Regions from separate parts of the Homo sapiens genome. Here region 1 is linked to region 2. Evidence: fine-mapped expression QTL. A gene starts in region 2. The other region holds a variant in brackets. All regions are shown on one strand. Distances are from middle to middle. Region 1 overlaps SCRN1 (secernin 1). Region 2 holds the start of SCRN1 (secernin 1).

Region 1 (9,569 bases), 70 kb after region 2:
GATGAAAACTGTCGCTGTGTGGTGTATGGTGTTTTGGGTATTTGGTTCATTAGAATGAAGAGGTAGAAAGGGCTGTGTGTTCAAGATGAGGCTGCTGAGGCTGGTGGGTTTTGAAATTTACAAATGACTCTCAGGTGGAGTCACATGATGCTGCATGAAGCAGTGGTGGGCGGGTGGTGAGAGCAGCTTCTCAGTTCTGGGACTCATGGGGCAAATGAAAGCTTTCACTGTCATCTGCCATAAATGAGTGAGTCCCATGGAAGAAGTGAACTCACCATCTCAGAAAAAGAGTGAACAGGGGAGAGACATGGCACCTGTTTATTCATTGATCCATTTTTTTTTTCATTCAATGAACATTTTTTGAGAGTGCCCTCCCAGTCACTGGAGGATAGAAATGAGCCCAGTTCCCATCCAAGGGGCCACAGCTGCAGAGGCAAGCCAGCACAAGGTGGGAGACAGCGCCCATGGCAGGGGGAACGGTGTGGCACTGTGCGGGGAAGAGGAAAGGCTTTGCAAGGAAGCTGAAGATGGGTGCACGTCGACCAAGCGCTGAGAAAGGGGATGGCCCTCCAGAGGGCAGGGCCACCTGTGCAGGGGCGAGACAGCAGCAGAGGCTGGAGGGCTACAGTGAATTCAGTCCAGCTGAGGAGTGGGGAGATGCAGGGGAAGTGGTCTTGGATGTCAGAAGGGCCTTCCCTCAGTGTCACTCTGGGGTCTGGGCTTTGTCCTGAAGGCAGCAGAAAGCTGTGCAGGTGTTCTAAGCCGGGCAGTGACATAATCATACTGGCATTCTAGAACAATCCCTGCGGCAGTCGTGTGTGAAACGGAGTGTGGGGAGGACAGGACCTTGAGCAGGAAGCCAGCTGGCCCCCTAGAGGGTTTCAGTGTCCGCTGCAATGTCCCCTGCTATTTTGCTGACACCTAAAGCAGTCGTGTCCTTCCTCAGGAGCAAGGTCGCAAGCTGAGGAGCACCATGCTGGAGCTGGAGAAGCAAGGCCTGGAAGCCATGGAAGAAATCCTGACCAGCTCCGAGCCACTGGACCCTGCGGAAGTGGGGGACCTTTTCTATGACTGTGTTGACACGGAGATTAAGTTCTTTAAGTGAAGTAAGCGTTCCCTTTCCCCTTCTTATTTAAGACTTCCCACCTTACTAAATTACCAGCAAAACAAACCACTCTCCTGTTTGAGTAAAATGAGAAAGTTAATATGTGGCCTCCTTTTCTGAAGCCAGATCAAACTGTTACCTTGTGTTCCACCTTGAATCTCACAGCGTCCCCTTCTGCAATGTAGGTCTCCTTCCTGTGCAGTGTAACATGTATCCCGTTGCCTGTTGTTCGGTTGTGTGACTAATTGTGGATTTTAAGCTGCTATTATTGTATTTCAGTGGCAATGGACACATTAGCCTTTTACAAGAGGACTAGAGTTCATCAAGCCTTGAAAGGCAGGCTTCACAGTGCCGAGTTGGCGGGAAAAGCAAATTCTTTTGAAGTCTTAGTCTTTCCCTCAGTAGCGGTTTCTTTCAGGTTAACAAGAGGCATTTGTGCACACACACAGGGCTCTTGTGTGTGTTGTCAAGGGGACCCTCCGTGGCCTCCCGTGAGTGCATGCCTGTAGTGCACAGTGTCTCTACAGGTGTCTTCTGGGGGGCAGAACCAATTGGAAGGAAGAAAGGGACCCCTCTCCAGTCCTGGCTCCTTCCTACATCCTGGGCTCCTGAAGAAGCTGTCTTCCCATTTTCCATGCGCTGTGCTTATGTGTGGTGGACTGCAGAGCTGCTTCCACTTACAGGAGAGCTGATAATTTGTTAGCTGGAACCTATTCACTTCCGAGATTCAGACATAGCCATGCTGGTGGCCTTCTGAATCACTGCATGGATGTCCCAGGAGGCAGCTCTCCCCACACAGCAGCACAGCCATCACAGGATTCCTTGTGTAGAAATGATTCCCAGTCTAGTTACCAACAGCTAGTCTAGGAGTAATTGAATGGCCCTATGGCACAGTTCCACCCACAGAGTAGTGAATCTCTCAGCCAAGGAGGGAAAGAAAAGGAAGAACTCTTGACTATTTAGATTCTAGTTAAATATCTGGAATCCTAGCAGTCACTACATTATCTCAGCAGAGAGACTTTAATTAAACTGATTTGTTTCCAATGTCGGGTTCACTTAAAGGATTTGACTTACCACCAGAGCATAGAAAAGCATGCAAGGAAGACCAGATGGGCTTAGCATTGGGAAGACAGAGGGCAAGGAGGTGATAGATGGATATAGAAGCATTTCTCTGCAGGATACCAGTTCAGGCCCCACCATTCCTGCCAAGGCCATTACATCCCACAAACCCAAATACAAAGCAGCTGACTTCCCTGGATCTTCCCCCCACTCCTCACACCTCACATGTCCCAGGAGCTGCCTTCATTCAGGCGGGTAGCTGCACTGGGCATGGGGTGGTGGTGGGAGCTTACCGCCACCTATTCAAGCTCTCAGCTACTCCTGAAACGGGCAGAGATGATGAACAGAAGTGTATGTAAATACAGCAGCTAGTGGGAGAGCACCAGTTGGGCCTAATCCTGCCTCATCATTCTTGGCAGGAATCTGCAAATGGAAACATTGTGAGTATCAGCAATCTGGGAAGTGACAGGGTTAATAACTCCTTCCCAGAAGCTGTATCATGAGATTTTGAGGGGACCGAGCCCTGTTACATGGATGTGAACAGTGAGGATCAGAGGTTTTATCAGAACACATTCTTTTTTTCTACCAACTCTCCAGAGCGTGAGTATAGGAGTGCCATGAGCTTTTTAGTCAGCAGTTTTGTAAACTCTGTATATAAAATCATTAACCACACATTGTGGGTGATGGGAAGACGATTTCAGCTGACAGAGTTAATGGCAACCAATAATGGTGGCCTGTAGCTGCTAAGAGCTTCACGCAGGTTTGGCCTGGGCTTTCACTGTTGGTGAATTTAGAGTGTCCTTTTAGGTGGGGCGGCTATTCTAAAAGTGTCTTTCTATCACTGTTAAGGGGGGGGGAAAGTGAGGTTCGAGGATGACGTAGGTAACTCTCCCCTCCCAAGTCCATGT[T/C]CCAAGTGGCTATGTAAAGCAAGATGATACAGAAAGCTGCTCTAAAATCTCACTGAGTGATTTCACCTTCGCCTACTATGAAATGTCTCATCAGACCTGACATGTCTGAGATAACCAAGGTGATTCAGGATTTGATCAAAAGAAGTCTAGTAAGAATTAATTACACAGAAGCCTCCTTTCATTTCTATGGGCCAAACAAAGGCCATGGATAACCCTACCCGCTTTATGTCATTACCCATTGGGAAACACAATGGCTACTTCTGTTAGGGTACATTGACCTTGGTCAAGCATCTTAAAGAAGGCAACCCTAATTGAGAGCTGTCTTGGCTAATACTCTGCACCACAATTGTGATGTCCTAGTCCTACCACTAGAGGGCATGGTACAGCCTGGCAAAAGTTAAAAGGGGTGTGGCAGCTCCCATCAGGTCTGGAGGTGGTCTATAAGCACAGTTGACAGTTGTGCATTGGGATGGGTGGAGAAAGACGACAAGAGAGCAGAGAATCTGCTGATGTGGCTGCGCTTACTTTTAGTGACTTTATGTACTTATATTAACAGCTGGAAATAGGTTGTTGGGTTTTGAGCAGGCTGTTATAGTGAGGAATGTTCATTTTTAAATGTTCCTAACAGATTTTGCTTTTGAAAAATGCTTGTTACATGAATAATTTGTGGACCAGGGATTGCTTTTCTGAAGGCAGTATAGGGAACATGAATATTCAAGATGAAATACAAAAATTATGTTTAAGGGTCATAGTGTATAAGTAGCTTCCTAGGAAACCCTTTGTGTATCTTTTCAGACTGGGGTGGGGGCTGAGCATGCTTGTGCAGAAAGAAGCCATAGCCAGAAAGGACAGAATCTCTCCCCCACTCCCTTGCCCCATAACCAAACATAAGCTAGCTAGTCTTGTCTAATAGATGGGATTTACTATAGGTGAAGATAGCCCTCATATTCAAGGACAGAAGCTCTGGCAGGAGTAAATTAGCAAAGCAGAAATAGTACCCTTTCATTCTTGGAGGTGCTTTGAAATTTTAGGTAGAATATAATCGAAATTATGGAGGTTCCTTAGTGCTCAATAATATAAGACCTGGTGTTATTAGAACGAGTCTTTCTTATAAACTAACAGAGCAGGTATATGCCTGTTAGACCTTAGCTGTGGGGTTCCTTTACTATTGGGTGAATCATTAGGTATAAAAAATAATCATCAACCAGGCAAATTACTTTGCTTCCTAGCTGATGTCATCCCACATTGGTACAGGTGTTATTCAGTACTGGGTGGTTCAGCAGGGAAGCCGGGTGGGACCAGTGTGTCTGTCATGAAACCACTAACTGCATTCCTGACTGAAGAGCCATCTGTCATTTATTGGGGAAGGTCTTCAGTTGAGCTCTCAGCCTTAGGAAGGAAGCACGTGGAGGAGGGACGGAGGAGGTTCCCTTGCTGGGCATGCTTCGTAGAGGGCCAGGAGCAGCAGGTCATGTGCACATGCCGTTGCAGCACAAGCTTATGCTTCCCGTAGCCGTGGCTTTTCATTCTGCACAGTCCCAGGTCCCAGCTCCCCTCTTATGGTTTCTGTCATAATGTGCTTTATCTGATTGACTCCAAACATCCCGAAATGTCACCTGCAGATTTCTCGTGGGAACCAATATGTACATGTTTGCAATTATGCTGTGAGAATTTAAATGTGTTAGATGGAAAATGCTATTGGCAGGGAATAATAATAAAAAAAAAAGAAAATCATTCTGTTTCCTGCAGTGGGAACTGGCCATGTAGTCTTAACAGTCTTTTGTACAAATATCTACAAAGCAGATAATATCCCTATCCAGTGCTTGCCCTTGGAATTGTCTCTAAATGCATCAAGCATACAATAAAAAAAACTGAAATTAACATCCAGTGGAGTGGCCTCTTCTGTTTTGTGTCTCGTGAATAAACGTGGGCCTCAGTCGCAATATAGAAAATGTATGAGAATGGATATATTTTTCTGGCTAGAATCTTTAGAAAACAGTCAGTTCAGCAGTTTCTTGCATCATGTAATGTTCTGTGGATAAATTCAGTCTTTAAATATAAAACCACAACGAAATATCACCTCACACCCGTCAGGATAGCTACTATTGAAAACAAAAACAACAACAACAACAAAAAACCACAACCAGAAAATAACAAATGTGGGTGAGGATGTGGAGAAATTGGAACCCTTATGTACTGTTGGTGGGAATGTAAAACAGTGCATCCATTGTGGGAAACAGTATGGAGTTGCTCAAAAAATGAAAAACAGAACTGCTGTATAATCGGGCAATCCCACTTCTGGGTATACACAAAAGAATTGAAAGTAGGGTCTGGAAGAGAGGTTGCACACCCATGTTCATAGTAGCACTATTCACAGTGCTAAAATCTGGAAGCAACTCAAATATCCACAGATGGAAGAATGGAGAAACAAAATGTGTTCTATCCATACAATGGAATATTATTCATCCTTAAAAAGTGGAAGCAGATTCTGACATGCTACATGGATGAACCTTAAGGATGTTATGCTCTGTGAAATCAACCAGTCACGAATATTATATGGTTTCATTTCTATGAGGTACCTAGAGCAGTCAAAATCACAGAGACGGAAATTAGAAGGGTGGTTGCTAGGGGCTGGAGGTGGGGGAGAAATTGGGAGTTACTGTTTAATGAGTATAGAGTTTCAGAAAGTTTCGCAAGATAAGTTATGGAGAGGGATGGTGGTGACGGTTGTACAACAATATGAATGTACGCAACACGAATGAATTAAGCACTAAACATGGTAAGCATGGTAGACTTTATGTGTATTTTACCATAGTTATTAGAATGGAAGTCTAGATCATCAGAGTGGCTGGTACTCTGTGCCAGACATCTTGATTCCAAGGCATCAGCAATGCCACAACAGGAGAGGATGCCACTTAGGGAAAAAGCCAGCTCTCTTCACTCCTGTGACCCAGAAATGCCAGCTTGCTTTCCATGACTCTCCACTGTGACAGGTAAAACGCAACTGAATGTCTTGCTCGTGAAGATAGGACTTAGTCACCTGCAATGAATGACCTATTTCAAGGTCAGGGTAGATGACTGCTCTGTTTACATGATAAGGAGCTGCTAATTCTGAAATTTTATTCCCAGCTCTCTTTTCATAAACATTGTACCCTCCTGCAAAGCTCTGGGTGACAAAGCCTGTATTCTTTTGCTGGGGCTGCCGTCACAAAGTACCACAAACTGGGCAGCGTAACCAGGAGAAATTTCCTGGTTCACAGTTCTGGAGCCCAGACGTCCCAGGAATAAGACATCTGCAGGGTTGGTTCCTTCTGAGGGCTGTGAGAAAGAATGTGTTTCATGTCTCTTGCCCACCTTCTGGTGGCTTGCTGGCAATCTTCAGCACTTTGGGACCCATAGAAGCAGCATCCTGATTATCTCTGCCTTCATCTTCATGTGGCGTTCTCCCTGTGTCTATGTCTGTGTCCAATTTCTTCATTTTATAAGGACACCAGTCATATCGCATCAGGGGCCCACCCTAATCCAGTATGACCTCATCTTAACTAACGATATCTGCAATGGGCCTATTTCTAAATAAGGTCACATTCTGAGGTACTGGGGGTTAGGACTTCTTCAACCTATGGATTTTTGTGGGGACACAATTCGACCCATAACAGAATGGGTGGGTGGAGGATGCTGAAGCCTCCCGGGGCACCGTCTGAGAATTTGGAACTTGCTTCTGGAGTCCATGGCCCTTCCCATTAACTTGCTCCCTCTCTAGGAAGCACGTCTCTCACACTTAGCTCCATAAAAGGTGCTTACACTTCTAGCTACTTCACCACGGCCATGCTCAATGTGACTCTGAAGTTCATCATCCACTTTGTAGATTATCTTCGGCCCTTACTTTTTCTTCCCCATTCAGACTGGCCCTTTTGGCCATCAAAGAGCCAATCTGTACCTCCACCAATAAGAGAGCAATAAAACGGCCCCTTAACTAATTCTGATGCAAAGTGTGTAGTAACCAGCTTTGAAATTAGTTTCTAGATGAGATTTATTTCAGGAACATCTATGAATTTTAATGACTGCTCTCTCATTGTTATCCAGCAGCAGAGTTAGTGAAGTGTGGTCTGAGTAGCTCAGCAAATACTGAATGAAGTGCCTGGGATGCAGCCAGCAGAGCCCTGTTTGTGCCCAAGCATGGAACCAGCAAACTGGCTGCTCCCCGGGGTGCAGGGTGTGCATCACTGGCTCCGTTGTGATCCAAGGGTTGAGGGCTTGCCCATGTGTATTACATCATTGAATCTTCACCAATATACACTCGGGTACATATTTATGTCCCCTTTTGACAAATGAGGAAGCTGAGGCACAGATTGTAAGAGGCAACTTGTAAGAGGCAAAATGGAGATTCAGATCCTGGTTTGCCTTCTAAGCACTAGCTCTGAGATAGCTTGCCTAGCAGATAAATCTCACCTCCCCTGAACCCTGTTCCCAAAGGTCCACCTTAAAATACTACAGGGGGATTCAAGATGATTCTGTTCCTACAGGAGGCTTTTTTGGGGGGTTTGCTGAGTTGGGAGTGGGGACTAAGTGCACGTAGAGGGAAGGTTGTTCTATTTCAACACAATTTAGCAGAATTTATAAGCAATACACTGCCCATTCTGTGTTAATCAAACTGAATAAATATAGTGTTATCTACTTTTTAAAAAATGCACCTGAGAAATTTTTTTTTTCTTGCTTGTTTTTTCCAAATACCAATTAGGCTAGTTAGCTCAAGAAAGAAAGGCCCTGTTTCTAACACAGTATGTTACAGCAAGCACCGTATCCATGTAAATATCTATTTTTTTTCTATCATTCTTAGAACTTCAACTTCTCCTGATCCTTAAAAATGTTTGGTTTAGATTGATACTGGTGACCACCGATGGGTTTTAACAAGGAAACGACTGGAAGCATTTCCACTTACTAAAGTTTATTAAGTACAAAGAAATGAATCTGCGGAAGGAGACATCAATAAATATAAAATACACGTGAAACATTGGAGGAGTCACAGACTGCAGTGTCAGTGAGAATATGTGACAATGGCGGGGACTGTGTGACTCAGATGTCTCTAAGTCTGAGTTTACAGTCAAGGGGTTAAACCTTTACAGCGCCCAAGGGACTCAGTGCACCAGCATGAGCTCGAAGGGTTGTGAATTCAGTGATAGGTCTCAAGGGGAGATGGGATGCCACATTCCTGAGATTTCTCCCTAATTGCCATTTTTGGTTTCTGCTCCTTCCTCCCCTCTGTCCTTTTTTTTTTTTGAGTTAGGGTCTCGCTCTGTTGCCCAGGCTAGAGTGCAGTGGTGCCATCTCAGCTCACTGCAACCTCCACCTCCAGGGTTCAAGCAATTCTTGTGCCTGAACCTCCCAAGTTGCTGGGATTACAGGTGTGAGCCACCATGCCTGGCTAATTTTTTGTATTTGAGTAGACAGGGTTTCACCATGTTGGCCAGGCTGGTCTTGAACTCCTAACCTCAAGTAATCCACCCACCTCAGCCTCCCATGCTGGGATTACCTGCATGAGCCACTGCTCCTGGCCCGCTCTGTCCTTAAATAGTGTTATTTTAATTTCCATCCCAGCCATAGGAGACACGAATGTCTAAACACCTCATTAGGGCAGGCAGTCTACTCTGAAGGTGGAATTGCCTTTGTCTAGGGTCTTCTTAATCAGGATCATTAAAACTTCTATAATTATTTTACACAACTGTGAGGGCAGTGGAGTGGACACTGTTATAATAATAAATTCTGGCTTTTTGGAAATCTTCCAGAACCAATAAAACAAATTAGTTATGCCCAGAGCTGATGACCTGCAAAAACTTCTACTTATTTAGCTGTTACAGTTTGGGCTTGATTCATTCCCCTGGAGAAGGGAATTTGACCCTGGCTCACTTGCTTCCATCTGGAATGAGAAAGCACAGCACTGCTGCAGGACACCACCTGAGTCGTTACTCCAGACAACAGTGAGGCAGATGCAGTCATGTTTGCCCACACCCTCCTGACCGGCTGCCTTTCTGGATGGCTTGGTCTGTTCATGATATACTTCAGGGGTGAATGTGTGCGTGGGTTGTTGCAAAGCAAATTTCTTTTTCGCTGGTTTCCCTCCCCTCCCTGCCTGATTTCCTTTAAAGGGCAGCTATTTTGAGCACAGCCCAGGGATCAGTCTGTTTCCTTCTATTTTTTCTCCTTCCTCTGTCACAGTCTTCCCCGACCAAAGATGGGGAACATCAGGGGTCAGGCAGCAAGCAAAAACACATTTCCACTCCCTACAGGATCAAGAAGAGGGAGTGAAGAGCAGGACCAGCCCGGCCTGACCTTTTCCATATTCAGAGTGGCTGAGCTTGCACACATCTCCCCACAGACAGGTGCCCACCACAAGGGAATGAATGTGGAGTTGTCAGGCAAGGTTCTCCTTTAGCTCAGAAGGGAGCTAGGTTTTGCCTGACGGGTGGCTCCAAGGATCCTAAGATGGGGGCAGTGAGGCA
Region 2 (9,510 bases):
AAAAGCAGCTGACAAAATTCAACACTGATTCATCATTAAAAACAAATGAAAAAACAAATAAAACTATCAGCAAAGTAGGAAAAGAAGGAAACTTCCTCAACATGATAAATGGTATCTGTAAAAAACTCTACAAATAATATCATACTTAGTGGTGAATGACTGAACTTGTTTGTTCTCACTGTTCCTCTATAGCATTAAGTAGGTCCTAGCAAATGCAATAAGATATGGAAAAGAATTAAAAGGCAAATAGATTGAAAAGGAATAACTAAAAATGTATTTTTAGTCAACATGATTGAGTACAGAGAAAATTCTAACAAATGATGAAAAAGTTAATAGAATTCATAAGCATATTTAGTAAAGTCATAGGATATAAGGTCCATATACAAAAACCAATTGCATTTTTATATTCTAGCAATGAACAATTGAAAAATAAAATTTAAAATGATTAGTTACAATAACACCCAAAAACATGAAATAATTATTAAATAAAATATGTCCAAGACCTGTATGCTGAAAACTCTAAATATTTGCTGAGAAAACTTACAGACAACCTAAAAAAATGGAGAAATATACCATGTTCATAGATTGGAAGACTCAATATTATTAAGATGTAAATTCTCCTCAAATTGGTCTATAGATTGAATGTGATTCCAGTCAGCATTTTGTATAGGAATTGGCAAGCTGATTCTAAAATTTATAACCAAGTGCAGAGTACCTAGAATAGCCAAAACAGTTCTGAAAAAGAACAAACTTGGAAGACTTAAGCTGCCTGACTTCGAGACTTGATATAAATCTATAATAATCAAGAGAGTATAGTATTGGCATAAGAATAAATACATAGCCGGGCATGGTGGCTCACGCCTGTAATCCCAGCACTTTGGGAGGCCGAGGTGGGCAGATCGCCTGAGGTCAGGAGTTCGAGACCAGTCTGACCAACATGGAGAAACCCCGTCTCTACTAAAAATACAAAATTAGCTAGGTGTGGTGGCACATGCCTGTAATCCCAGCTACTTGGGAGGCTGAGGCAGGAGACTCGCTTGAACCTGGAGGGCGGAGGTTGCAGTGAGCCAAGATTATGCCATTGCACTGCAGCCTGGGCAACAAGAGTGAAACTCTGTCTCAAAAAAAAAGAATAATTATGTAGACCAATAGAATGGAAGAGAGAGTTGAGAAATATACCTACATTTACACGGTCAATTGACTTTTGTCAATAGCATGGTAAATCCTGGGGGAAAACAAATGGTGCTGGAACAATTGAATAGTCACATAAATAAACTTGGAATTTTACCTCCACTTATTCAAAAATTTACTTGAAATGGACCATGGTCTTAACATAAGTGCTAAAAAACTATACATCTCTGGATGTAAACATAGAAGAAAATCTTTGCAACCTTGGAGTAGGCAAAATTTCTTAGGACATAAAAAGTATTAACTATAAAAGAAAAAATATTGATAAATTGAGCATAACAAAATTAAAATCTTCTCTTCAAAAGACACCACTAATGAAAAGCGAGACATATACTGAAAGAATATATTTGTAATACATAAATATGATAAAGAACTTGTATCCAGATATAAGGAATTCTTAACATGTAATAATAATACTAATTAAAAATATAAAACTTTTTAACAGGCAAAAGACTTAAACACTTTCCAAAAGAACATATATGAATGGCTAACAAGTATAGGAAAAGTTGCTCACCATTATTAATCAGCAAAGAAATATAGGCTGGACATGGTAGTTCATGCCTATAATCCCAGCACTTTGGGAGGCTGAGGCGGGTGGCTCATGAGGTCAAGAGATCAAGATCATCCTGGCCAACATGGTAAAACCCCATCTCTACTAAAGATAGAAAAATTAGCTAGGCATGGTGGTGTGCAGCTGTAGTCTCAGCTACTCAGGAGAATGAGGCAGGAGAATTGCTTGAACCTGGGAGGTAGAAGTTGCAGTGAGCCGAGATCGTACCACTGCACTCCAGCCTGGAGACAGAGTGAGATGCTGTCTCAAAAAAAAAAAAAAAAAGGCAATATAAATTAAAACCACGAGGAGATTTCAGTACACATTTGTGAGAATCGATAAAATTTAGAAGATTGATAATAGCAAGTGTTGATAAGGATGTGGAGCAACTGGAACTCTCATATATTTCTGATATAATGTAAAATGGTAAAAACCACTTTGGAATACAGTTTGGCAACTTTTTATAAATTTAAATATACACCTGCCGTATGACTCACCCACTTCACTCTTAAGTATTAGGTTGGTTGGTGCAAAAGTGATTGCAGTTTTTGCCATTTTTAAAACAGTAATGGCAAAAACTGCAATTACTTTTGCACCAATCTAATGTTTACCCAAGAGAAATGAAAACCTACACTTACATAAAACTTGTAGATAAATATTATTAGCAGCTTTATTCATAATTGTTCCAAACTGAAAACACTATTAGTATCTGTGGTCATCACTGAGTGTACCCTCCAGACATGTTTAGCAGACAGCCTCTAGCTATAATCTCCTTCTGCCTCAGCTGCAGAGAGTAACCTCTGTAGGGATCATGTCCTTCTCAGGGCGGAAGAGAAAAAAGGAAATCTGTTATACTTGTATTTTTTAGCTCTTAAGTCTCTGAATATGACTAGATGGAATATAAATGACCGTGTAACAGTTGCAAGTCATTTAAGACATTTTTTTTCCTTGCAAGCTAGCTCATGGAAATCTTATAATTTACTCAAAGTTAAACCTCACATAATTGATAGAGGCCAATGATTAAAGCCCTTACTGATATTTCTTGGTGTTCTCCACATTTGTTGGACAGTTCTGTTCTCTTATCTCTATTTATGCAGCTCAAATAATAGTAGGGACTGTCTTTTGGATACAAAGCAGAGACAAAATAAGTGTATTGCTGCTGGTTTTTGTTTTTTAAGACGGAGTCTCACTCTCTCACCCAGGCTGGAGTGCAATGGCACGATCTTGGCTCACTGCAACCTCTGACTCCCTGGTTCAAGCTATTCTCCTGCCTCAGCCTCCCAAGTAGCTGGGATTATAGGCACGCACCACCACACACAGCTAATTTTTGTATTTTCAGTAGAGACGGGGTTTCACCATGTTGGCCAGGATGGTCTTGATCTTCTGACCTCGTGATCCACCCGCCTTGGTCTCCCAAAGTGCTGGGATTACAGGCATGAGCCACCATGCCCGGTCATTGCTGCTGTTTAATAAGCGTTCATAGTGCCATATAATAAGCTTCTCCATGCAGACCCTGGGGAAAGCAGGTGTCTTTCAATCTCCATGTGTTCCTGGGCTCCTGGCCTCAAAGCTCCTGTGGCTGTGTAGGGACAAACCAACAGGCTTCAAAGATCTCAGGCCAGGCAGGCAGGTTGGCAGTATCCCCTATCCGTGTACTGAGCATATGGCTGCCTCCAGGGGAGCAGCGTAGGGTGCAAGTGCCATCCTTTACACAACAAATGACATATACTGGCTATAGGAAGGCACAGGATTGCATTTGCCTTTCTAGTAGTGGTGTAGTCTTAAACTAGACATTTAAAACAGTGACTCTGGCTGGGCACGGTGGCTCACGTCTGTAATCTTAACACTTCAGATGGCTAAGGCAGGAGGATCATTTGAGTCCAGGAGCTTGAAACCAGCCTGGGCAACATAGTGAGACTCCATTTCTACAAAAATATTTTAAAAAGTAGCTAGGCATGGTGGCACATGCTTGTAGTCCTATCTACTCAGGAGGCTGAGGTAGGAGGATCACTTGAGCCTAGGAGGTAGAGGCTGCAGTGAGCCACTTCCCTCGAGGCTGGGTGACAGAGCGAGATCCCATCTCAAAACAAACAAAAAATAAAACAGCGACTCTGAGACTTTTAAAAAAAGTTTAATATTTATTTTAAGTTCTGGGGTATATATGCAGGATGTGCAGATTTGTTATATAAGTAAACGTGTACCACGGTGGTTTGCTGCACCTATCAACCCATCACTTAGGTATTAAGCCCAGCATGCATTACCTATTTTTCCTAATGCTCTCCCTACCCACACCTCACGGACTTTCAGACTTTAACATGCAAGAGAAACAACTAAAGAGCTTGAAAAATGCGGGTTCCCTGGCTCCAGCCCCAGAGACTCTGAATTCCATAGATCTGGGCTGGAACCCAGGAATAAGCCCGCTAGAAATTTCTAATATTGATTATTTAGACTCATTGGCTACAGTTTTCTTGGCTAGACTAAAAGAACAGTAAAGTACCTTTGTGCTCCAAGAGTCTACGAACCAATGCTCTATTCTGCAGTACCTACACCAACTTCCTCAGCCCTTCCCCACTATCCGTTTACTCATGTGTCAGACTGTAAGCACAGGCTCAACATTCAAAGGGCATGGAAAAAAGTCTCCTTCTCTCCCCAGCACCCAGTCTCCCAGTTCTGCTCCCTGGTGGCATCTATTACAGGTTCTTACGTACTCTTCCAAAGATACTCTGTGCATTTACAAAAATAAGTACAGACATACATATATATTTTCTTCCCACAAATAACACACACAACGTTCTGCACCTAGCTTTTTATTTTTCTTTAGTTAGTATAGGTTGGAAATAGTTTTGTATTAGCAAATAAAGATCATTCTCCTTTTTAAAGGAAGCTGGATAGTAGAGGCAGGCGGATTGCCTAAGCTCAGGAGTTTGAGACCGGCCTGGGCAACATGGTGAAACCCCATCTCTACTAAAAATCAAAAAAAATTAGCGAGGCTGGTGGCGTGGGTCTGTAGTCTCAGCCACTTGGGAGGCTGAGGCACGAGAATCGCTTGAACCCGGGAGGCGGGAGGCGGGAGGCGGGAGGCAGGAGGCGGAGTTTGCAGTGAGCCGAGATCCTGCCACTGCATTCCAGACTGGGCGACAAAGCAAGACTCAAAATGTTTTGATTTTTGTTAATCTGGCTGGTGGAAGATGCTACCCCACATATTTGATTTGCAGTTAAGTGAGCCTGAATATCTTTTCGTGTGCCAGGATAGAATTGCATTTATTTTCCTCTGAATTACGTCTTCATATCTTTTGAGATAGTCTTTTCTTATTTACTTATAAAAGATGGAGTTGACGCTGGCATCAACACACACACACACACACACACACAGACACACAACACACAAGTCCCTGTACATAACTTTATTAACCCAGATATGGAATCTTGGCTTAGTTACGTGCTGTGTGACCTTGGGCAAGTTACTTAACCTCTCTAGGCCACAATGTCCAAGTACCTGGGACAGGGTCTGGCTTACCAACATGGTACAGGACGGCACTTTTAAAACCAGGGACTCGACTTGGACGTGCGAGTCAACAAGGTACAGGACACATTTCTCTCCGGGGAAATCTTGTGTGGGCGCCGAGGCCCGGACGTAGCAACCAAACGTCGGGAAGAGGCGCCAAAAGGATGCTGGGCCTGGCTCCTTGAAGCCCGGGTTTTCCCTTTTGAGAGCCACAACCAAGAAATAAAAATCTAGCAAAGAGGGGGCCACTTTCTGCGGCGAGATACGCCCTCTCGGCCGCTCCTCCAGCTCCCAGGCCCCCTCCCTACTCGACGGTGAGCAGCGCCGCGGCCCGTGCAGCCAGACGCGCGGGGTGCGGCGGGGCCCCGGGGGCCGGGGTGGGGGAGGCGGAGGGTGGGCCCGCGGTCACGTGAGTCGGGCCAGCTGCTGCGGGGGGCGGCGGGCCCCAGCGCCGGGAGTCTGGGTAGGGGGAAGCGCCCGGCGGCCGCCTCCGCCACTGCAGCTGCAGCCCCCGAGGTCGCCGCAGTAATCCGGACCCGGCAGCACCCGCACCCTCGGCGGCCGCAGCCTCAGCACCGCAGAGCGGAGAGCGGAGCCCGGAGCCCGCCGCCCCAGGTGAGCCGCGTCTGGGAGCGCAGGGCGTTTGCAGCGCTGCTTTCCCGGCGGTTTCACCCCACCCGCCATCGCCACCTCCTGCGTTTCATCTCCTCCCGCTGTCCCTCCGAACCCGCGGGTAGCGTTACCCCAGGCCGATTCCCGGTGCTGGCCCGGGCGGGCTGGGAGCCTGGGGGCGGTCAGAGGAGAGGTGGCCTCGGCCTGAAGCCGGGGTGACTCGGCTCGGGGACTGCGGGGGTGCAGTGGAGGGATGCCGGCCCCGGGCTCCCGCACCGCAGCCGGGTTCCCCGCGCTGCTCTTCCTGGGTTTCCTTTTCCTGGCAGCCAACCTGCTGCCCACTGGGATGTGCCTGTGGGCCCCTGGCCTCGCCACCCTGGGGTCTGGGGCGAGCCGGGCACCTTCCCCGAGGTGCCGTACCTGCTGCGCGGGCGGGCGCCGCGAACATGGCTGCCCGGAGACGCCCGCCGCCTTCGGCCCGGCTCTGCCAGCGCGTCCAACTCGCCCGCGGCCGCCGCACCGTGTCCCGGAGCAGCCCTCCCCGCTAGGCCGACGCGCGCGGGCCGCCCCTGGGTTCTCCGCGGGCCGCGCGTGGGACTTGACACAACTTCCCTCGAGCCGCACCCGGGCGTTCTCCGCGGGGCGCCGGGCGGGGCTGCCGAGAGGCCGGCTTGGTCGGCCTCTGCCTCCTCGGCTCGCTCTTGAGGCGTCGAGTATTTGGCGACCTCACTCGCGAGGGCCGAGAGAAATGTGGTCTGCAAAGCAGGAGGGGCGCTTGAACTTTAGAGAATTGGCGAGAACTCGGATTTGGGAATAAAAATGTCCATGAAAACATCGAAGGAAACTGTTACCTGCTTTGACTCAAAGCTGACCTTGTAGGGTTCTGTTAAATAACGTGGCTTTTCTGGATTTTCTGTCTGATTCTAGCATGCAAGTCCTTGACTTACGCTTGCGTCCGGCAGCCGGGTGGGGTGGGTGCGTGCGTGTGTGTGTGCGCGTGTGCGCGTGTTGTGTTCCCAGCCTGGTTAGAAGATGCATCAGTTGCGGAGGAAACCTATGCTAATTCAAAATGGCAGCATGAAAAATAGGCCAGGCGGAAGCAGCACAGACCACAACCATCAGCTGCCCCCTGACTTAAGCCTCAGGGAGGGAATTAGTGTGAGTCAAGGCTCATCCGGGTATGGAGTAGAGAGTGATTCTTGGAGCTGGCTAGATTTTAGGGTGCTGCAGGGTCCTGGGAGTTGTTAAGTGGGAAGTTTGGAGAGCTGTAATTATTTTTCCTAACTTATCAAAAGATGATACAAAACCTAGTTAAAACTCTACGGTTTTGTATGATTTTCTCCAGGCTCAACTAAAGTTGACTCTGTGGCTGCTGATGTCTTTTTGATGCACAACCTGGAGGTCGTTTGATACCTACAAGCTCTTAAAAGAGATGTGTGCACATTGTAAACATCATCCAAGAGCAGTGCACATAACAAATACCAGGTTCTTAGATCAAGTTTCATTGGAAGAACTGATTTAGCGACACGAGGAAGCACCCAGGCATGAGGAAATGGGAAATTCTTGAAAGGTGACTCATTTTAGAATTTTTTTTTTTTAAACAGCCTTTCTTTCCCTTTTCACTTCCGTGCTGCCAGCCATCTTGTCTTTTGGGAAGGAGATACATGAGGAGGCAAATGCTTCAGGGATAATGGAATAGAGGAGGATGAGCTAAGGTCGGGGGGCAGAGGTGGAGGCAGTCTTAAGGAGCCTGCTGTCAACCCCCTTTTTACAGCAGGAAGGCTGAGGCCAGCGGGGCGAATGGACGCCAAGATCATATATCTGGCTGTCAACTGGCAGTGAGAACCCAAATCCAGGTCTCATAACTCCCCCGGGTTCCACATGCTACCTTTTAGAGCCTGGGGGAGAACAGCAAGTCTGTCATTATTAGGAAGGCAAACACTTCGAGCAATGGGAAGCCAAACTGTAATATGAATTACAAAGTCTATAGGTGTTTAAAGTCAATGACAACACCTTAATTTCCTAATTCAAGACTTTTAACTTCTTAAGCTGTATCTACCTCATGTTCACATTTTCCAGTGGTGAAACTGTTTCTATAGTTAAGAACCAAAAACATTATTTTAGTAAAGTCTTTGAGGCAAGAAGTACATTTTTTGATTAAAAATTGAGTTGCTTGTGTTTGTGGAGAACCATTAGGCCAGTTTATTTTGAAAAGGAACCAAAGTAGGCCATGCATTTCATTTTTTTCGACTGTTTCTAATTTTAAGTAAAAGTAAATAACAAGCCTATTGTAAACATAACTTTGAAGCAGTGAAGACAGGCTTTTCCTATGATTTGCATTTGACTTTTCTGAGTCATGAGTCAGTGACCTTAGATCTACTAAAGCAGAGCTAGAAATTGTGCATGGGTTAGTGTGAAGAGGTGGTGAAGATGTGGAAAACGTTTCTTCTGGGCATCTGAACCTTCACAGCCAGTGATGTGCAGAGGGAGAAGGTGGCAGGAGGCAGGGAACAGGGAGAATGTCTTGAGGCAGTGGAACAGATAGGAGCTAAATATGAATATATATATCGAAGTGAAGACAGATGCTGATGTGACATGTGCCATTTAGAAAACTAACTTGCAGCCGGGCGCGGTGGCTCACGCCTGTAATCCCAGCACTTTGGGAGGCCGAGGCGGGCGGATCACGAGGTCAGGAGATCGAGACCATCCTGGCTAACACGGTGAAACCCCGTCTCTACTAAAAATACAAAAAATTAGCCGGGCATGGTGGCACGCGCCTGTAGTCCCAGCTACTTGGGAGGCTGAGGCAGGAGAATCGCTTGAACCCGGGAGGCGGAGGTTGCAGTGAGGCGAGATGGTGCCACTGCACTCCAGCCTGGGCGACAGAGCGAGACTCCGTCTCAAAAAAAAAAAAAAAAAAAAAAAAATTAAAAAAATTAGAAAACTAACTTGCATTAGAGGATGAATGTGAAGATATGCCAAAGATATTTAAAATAGCAAGTTGTAAAAATACAGAAATGCATGCAATTTGTGTCTGTTGAAGAATAAGAATACAGATAAACAAAAGTTATTTTTTTTTAAATCCGTTTTCATTAGAGTCTAGATCTGTGCTGTTTCATCTGGTAGCCACCAGCCTCATGTGGCTATTGAGCACTTGAAATGCAGCTAGTTTGTATTGAGATATGCTGAGTGTAAAATATACACACAATTTCAAAAATTTAATATGAAGAAAGAATTTAAAATATCATTAATAATTTTATATTGATTTTATATTGAAGTAACATGTTGGATATATTGGGTAAAATATATTACTAAAAATAATTCCATGAGTTTCTCTTTACTTTTAAAAATGTGGCTACTAGAAAATATAAAATTGCAAATATGGTTCGCATCTGTCTTGCTCTCTCTCGAGACAGGGCCTCCCTCCGTCACCCAGGCTAGAGTGCAGTGGCACGATCTCGGCTCACTGCAACCTCTGCCTCCAGGGTTCAAGCGATTCTCCTGCCTCAACCTCCTGAGTAGCTGGGATTACAGGCGTGCGCCACCACAGCCCGGCTAACTTTTGTATTTTTAGTAGAGACAGGGTTTCACCATATTGGTCGGGCTGGTCTCGAACTCCTGACCTCAGGTGATCTGCCCGCCTCGGCCTCCCAAA

Evidence for each region. PIP is the estimated chance that this variant, and not a neighbour inherited with it, causes the effect.
Region 1: its variant is fine-mapped to the expression of SCRN1 in whole blood (INTERVAL, PIP 0.90).

Annotation. Positions count from the first base shown.
Region 1 is chr7:29,915,493-29,925,061 of GRCh38, reverse strand. SCRN1 (secernin 1) reads left to right here. Exons shown (of 8, transcript NM_014766.5): 8 at 947-4,953. The coding sequence ends at 1,105. WIPF3 (WAS/WASL interacting protein family member 3) reads right to left here. Exons shown (of 9, transcript NM_001080529.3): 9 at 8,001-9,569. Among named protein-coding and RNA genes, the nearest start is that of FKBP14-AS1, 68 kb to the left of the region's middle. The variant T/C (reference allele first, on the strand shown) is at 3,073.
Region 2 is chr7:29,985,990-29,995,499 of GRCh38, reverse strand. SCRN1 (secernin 1) reads left to right here and starts at 5,699. Exons shown (of 8, transcript NM_014766.5): 1 at 5,699-5,858. FKBP14-AS1 (FKBP14 antisense RNA 1) reads right to left here and starts at 6,844. Exons shown (of 3, transcript NR_187577.1): 1 at 6,707-6,844. RefSeq lists silencers at 5,573-5,912, 5,933-5,982, 5,993-6,262, 6,353-6,472.